Linked DNA regions of Homo sapiens: region 2 is linked to region 1. Evidence: fine-mapped expression QTL. A gene starts in region 1. The other region holds a variant in brackets. All regions are shown on one strand. Distances are between the middles of the regions.

The links. PIP is the estimated chance that this variant, and not a neighbour inherited with it, causes the effect.
Region 2: its variant is fine-mapped to the expression of MEOX2 in anterior cingulate cortex (GTEx, PIP above 0.99). The same link has a PIP of 0.9 or more in cerebellar hemisphere, cerebellum and prefrontal cortex.

Annotation. Positions count from the first base shown.
Region 1 is chr7:15,685,361-15,688,281 of GRCh38, reverse strand. It overlaps MEOX2 (mesenchyme homeobox 2), which reads left to right and starts at 1,599. Exons shown (of 3, transcript NM_005924.5): 1 at 1,599-2,396. The coding sequence starts at 1,880. RefSeq lists an enhancer at 2,403-2,921.
Region 2 is chr7:15,735,090-15,738,010 of GRCh38, reverse strand. LOC105375167 (a long non-coding RNA gene) reads left to right here. Exons shown (of 3, transcript XR_927058.2): 3 at 1,242-2,837. Among named protein-coding and RNA genes, the nearest start is that of LINC02587, 48 kb to the right of the region's middle. The variant G/A (reference allele first, on the strand shown) is at 1,247.

The DNA of each region.
Region 1 (2,921 bases):
TGATCAACCCCCACTCCACCCCACCTCTGAGCAATAGAAAACAATTCGATCTTTCACACGGATGTTATTGCGAAGCCACTATTCTGCAGTGTGACTTAAAAGAAAAGAAGATAGTGAGGCTTAAGCAAGGGGACTGGAAGAGGAGGGGAAAGGTTCTGCTTTGGGGACACCTCTCAAAGATTAATCAATGCTTTTTCCTAATTCAAACCAGATGTCTAGCCCAGTTTGCTGTACCCATTAATCCCACTAACAACTTCAAAGACCTGGTCATCATCCTCTGGACACCTGAGACAATGAAAAAACGGGGCGACACTGCTGGTGGCGCATTTGGGGCCCCGGGCAGAATAGGTGACTACAGATATTCTCCTGATGCGACAGGTCGCAGATGGGACATGACTGTTCCTCCTGCTCATTACAGCGCCACTCACTTGTGTGTAAACGACTCTGCCCCCAGCGGACCCTGTCGCCCGCCAAGCAAGTAGCAGCTTCAAAGCCCTGCCCTCGCTCTCGCATGCTTACTAGAGGCGAGTTTTCTATTTTATTTTCAGGGGTGCAAAATTGTAACCAAGTGCCCACGGTGAGTGAATTTTGGGAGCTATCGAAATGTAAGAATTCTCAGTAAATGGAACCCTGGTGGTAAGGAATGCATTAGCGGATTTATTTTTGAGCAGAAGAGAGTGGATTTCTGGAGGAAACCGAGGAGATCTGGGCTAGCTCCTGAGGGGAAAGGCTAGAAATGCGCGTGCAATCTACACATCTCATATGACCGGGACACAATCGCTTGGAAATATTCTTGACCCAGGAAAAGTTCTTCTTGGTGGACAAGTGGCTAGGAAATTGAGCGGGACCGGGAAAGAGGGGGAAGGGAGCCTCCACCTGGCATCGCACGTGAGGATGCCAGGGAGCAGGCATCTGCAACCCTTTCAGACTCACGCCTTCCTCCCACCCACCCAACCAGGTCCGTCTTCTTTCTGCACTGAGAACCGCCTTTTCCAGGCCATGGTGCTCATCCCCGCAACCTCAGATCTGGCGTCCCAGCCTATTAACAACCCACCGACAGAAACCAGCTGCGAAAACCTAGGCGCGCTGCGGCGCCCGGGGCACGGGAAGATGCAAAGTTTGAAAAACTTCGAGGGTGCGCCAAACTAGCTCTGGTCTTTTCCTTTAACCCTATTACTTCTTTCGTGTTCCTGAAAGGATAGGCGTATCCCTAGCTTTTCTGCAGGTGACAGTTCCCAAATGACACTGACAAGTCACGTTTCCCCGAGAGGAAAGTGAGTAGGTAGGAATCAGGGTGCTAGGTTGGGGGTGGTGTGCGCCGCGCCCAGGCCTCCAGAGTCTGGAGGGCAGAGCTGCTGCCCTCCCGGGCGGGACTTAGACGTTGGCGTGCCGCTTGTAGTCCTGGCAGCCGGCAGTGCTGGGCGGGCGTGGACGCTCTACGTCCGTCCAGCAGGAGATAGGAAGTGGAACTGGGAGCGCGTGGCGCAGGCTGAGCGGGAGTTTTGGAGGGAGTTTGCATGTGGTCAACTCTGGGCTCCTAAGCCAGCCCCCAGCTCACGTTACACTCTATTTATAACTTCTCAGAGCCATTTCCCCCTGAAAGCAGTTCTCTGGGACCACCTTCTTTTGGCTTCAACCTCTCCCACTCTTGACATCTGAGTAGCTCAGGGAAGCTCTTCCAGGTCCGACTGTTCATATGTAAAGGAGACTGGCCGCTGGGGCTCAGGACCGGGATTATCCGAGCTCTGCAGAAGTGCACCGCTATTGCTTTGGGAGGTTAAAAAAAAAATCACACGGTTTCCAGTGAAAAAGTGACAGAGGGTGGTGGCCTTTGGAACCGCCGTGAAGTCTTCTGCCTGGAACCCGAAACTTGCATGCTATGGAACACCCGCTCTTTGGCTGCCTGCGCAGCCCTCACGCCACGGCGCAAGGCTTGCACCCGTTCTCCCAATCCTCTCTCGCCCTCCATGGAAGATCTGACCATATGTCTTACCCCGAGCTCTCTACTTCTTCCTCATCTTGCATAATCGCGGGATACCCCAACGAAGAGGGCATGTTTGCCAGCCAGCATCACAGGGGGCACCACCACCACCACCACCACCACCACCATCACCACCATCAGCAGCAGCAGCACCAGGCTCTGCAAACCAACTGGCACCTCCCGCAGATGTCTTCCCCACCGAGTGCGGCTCGGCACAGCCTCTGCCTCCAGCCCGACTCTGGAGGGCCCCCAGAGTTGGGGAGCAGCCCGCCCGTCCTGTGCTCCAACTCTTCCAGCTTGGGCTCCAGCACCCCGACTGGGGCCGCGTGCGCGCCGGGGGACTACGGCCGCCAGGCACTGTCACCTGCGGAGGCGGAGAAGCGAAGCGGCGGCAAGAGGAAAAGCGACAGCTCAGGTAAGGGCGCGCCAGGCACCCTCGAGAGTGCGCGCCGGGCTGGAAAAGGGGCGGAGAGATACTAGGGGAGATTCTCGCACTGGAGGGTGGCAGCAGGGAAGATGGGAATGTGTTGCCCTCTGTGGCTTCCTGCGGCCAAATTCGGCGGTGAAGCTTTGGTCCTGATATTTGGGGACACGTGTTTATTCGAGAGCAATGCGTATACAGCCAGCAGCTCTAAGCCCTCCAAAGTCCTAAACTAGTTTACCAGAAGGTTGATAAAAAAGGACAAGTGGCTGTGAAATCGATTGTGAAGCGTGACCTTCCATCCCAGCGCTGGGGAGGGAGGGGCGTGCGCCCAGGGATGCAGCGTCCGTTGGGCAGGCGTGCGTGCGGGTGCCGCTTCTTGACTTTTCTCTTGCAAGTTGCCGACTCTGAGTGGCTCGATTTTTCCCATCGTTAACTGGATTTCCAAATTATTGCACAATGTTTGGAACTTGCAATGGAACTTGGCAGAGCGCATGAGAAAAAAAAGTTTCAGTTTTT
Region 2 (2,921 bases), 50 kb before region 1:
CAGCATATTGGCACAGAGTCTGAAATAAATGCAAATAAACAAAAAATTAAATACCCAAACTAATCACACGTTCTTGCAAGTTGCTCATAAGTGATGCCTCTTGCAATTCTATGTTCTGAGAACTACAGATTTGATAGTCAAATTCAATTACATCACATCCTTGGCAGTATACATTCTTGTAACAGGATGTTCAAATGGAAACCTTTCTTTTTAGTTTTGGTGGAGACTTCAAATTCCAAGACGAAAACAATAGCAGGCAAGTGCTTCCACATTCCACACTGAGGTGATATACTACTGCCTATATATGACTAGCAAAGGAAACAGTGCAGAAACAAAAATGCAAACAGTTTCTTGAACTCTAGCTACATATCCTTTATAGCACAACATTTTTCAGGTTAAAGAGCTAAGAGGATTTTTTTTTATACAGTTGCTGAACTGCTATGGATTTTTTTTTTGTCTCTATTCAAAGAGGCAAAAAAGAATGGAGGGTGCCCTAGCCTTAACTGAAGTCAGCTATGGGATCTTTAATCTAATCACCTAGAGAGCTTGAGATATATACATATGTATATGTATCTGTATATCTGTATGTGGATATGAATGTATAGATATATGTATCTGTATATCTGTATCTGTATATGAATGTATATATAAGATATAAATGTATCTATATATACATTCATGTACATGTATATACATATATATACAATACATATGTCTCCTGGAGATATATATATATATATATATATATATACAGCTCCTGAAGTCAAAAAACAGAACATACAGGTTCCTGAGCAATCTCTGAGAGAAACAGGAAAAGAGAGCGGCAAAGCAGCCATCACAGACTTCCCTGCAATGTGTTTTTTGTGATACAGGGATTGTGCCAAGTGAGAAATAACGGGTCAGAGATTGATTTCAACTGTGATGAAGAGGACCATCTGCAGGTTTGATATGATCTCAACCAAAGGGATATATCTTCAGAAATCTAAGACTGAGTGGGAAGGGAAAAATAATACAATTTATTATCCAAGTCAGGGGAAGTGCAGTAGGACTTCGTGAAAGAGTCAGATGTAAACGTTTCCTAAAGCAGGATCACAACAGTAACAGACAAGTCATAATGTTTCTTCGCTCACTGCTCTTTTTTCTAATTCTTCTTATGCTATAGAGGATAGAAACCTGGGGACAAAAAGAAGCAATAGTTACAAAATAGAAATGATGGAGACACATTCCCTTTTTCATTGCAGGCTCC[G/A]TACCTGAAAAGGTACAACAAGGAGGGATGAAGAAAGATCACTGACCAGAAATAAAATTGGGAGTTTAGACAATTAAATTATCTGGACATTTTAATTCCTGAACTACGACTAGGCTACAACATGCGGACTGCTGTAGATGTCACCCAGGAACAGAAAATAACTAGCCTCGTGAGAAAGTTTTGAATGGGCAAAAGGGAAATTGAATACAATTGTTTTTTGCTTGCACCATATAGAGGCGTATTCTTTCTATGTACAGTGATAGGAAACTGGTGGTGTTTGACATCATCCAAAAACAGGGCCCATTTTTTGAATCATAAATTATCTTCATGAACACACCCATTGCCTTCAACATACAGCCTAAGTCTCATACTTTCTAAAATATCTCCGGTACCTGCTCCAGTTCTCAGTGATCACCAATTCCTTTGTCCTCCAATAACATAAATTTCTTTTCTACCTTGTACTTAGAATTCTGTTCAAACTATCTTGTTGTATTCAAAATAATTTTAACGAGCTATAGTTGACATAACATATTTAGTTATCTATCTATGTATCTGTCATCTATCAATCATCTGATGAGAATTTATCATTACACTCAAGATAATGAGCTCAGACATGATTCCCAAATATTTTCTCATCAGGCTTTGTAATTCTTCCCTCTCAACACTCCCCAGCATCCCCCAAACCCAATAAACCACTAATCTGCTTTCAGTCACTATAGATTCATTTATATTTTCTGAAATTTTATATACAATGGAATCATTCACTATGAACTCTTTTTCATCTGACGTCTTATATTCAGCATAATTATTTTCATATGTTTCCGTGTTGCAGAGTATAATTTCGTTACATAGATATTCTATCTTATTTATCAATTTACATTTTTGTAAAGATTGTGAAATAAAAATAAAATCCTAAGCCCTGCAACTGACTGAGCAGACACCTGTTGCCCAAGAAGACTCCAGAAAAACTTTGAAAAATTGAGTTTCCTGGTCATGACAAGGTGGGAGGTTGAGTACCTCTTGGTGTACCTCATTCCTTGCCAATCTTTACTAGATTATTTTCTAAGGGTTAAACAGAAACTGGCCCTGGAAAAATAAAGAAATGAAAACTCACTCCTTTGCTGATTTCAGCCAACTGCTGGACACTGCAGCTGGAATCCTCTCCCTTCTTGTAGTTTCTACACAGCAGCTCACCAGTTTCATAGCACATTCCTTTCTGATTTTTTACTACCAGCCATGGACTGGTTCTGGCCAGATACAGAGGCTGCCCACAAGATGTCTGTCATCTTTTAATGTATACAGCCTAATTTTAATACATTTAAATGTTAATTCTCCATCCTAAAGTGAACATGTGACATATGTAATATGTATGTTTGCTTACTAGCATATGTGTGTCCCTTGTGAATATTCATAACTCTTTTTATAACTTGTTGATATGTATACTTAGCCATCCTGTCCAGTATAAATTCCTGTCTCATCCTTCTTCCATTGAAGTACCTGCTTTTGATTTCTGCTGGAGGCTATGCTTCCCAGTCTGCAGGGTGGCCAGCCTGCAGGCGGAAACCCTTTATAAGAAACAAAGCTCTCCTCTCCAAATATATGGATCTCATGATTTCAAGTCTACAAGACTTAAGTTGTTTTCTTTTCTTTTTTTTTTTTTTTTTTTTTTTTGAGA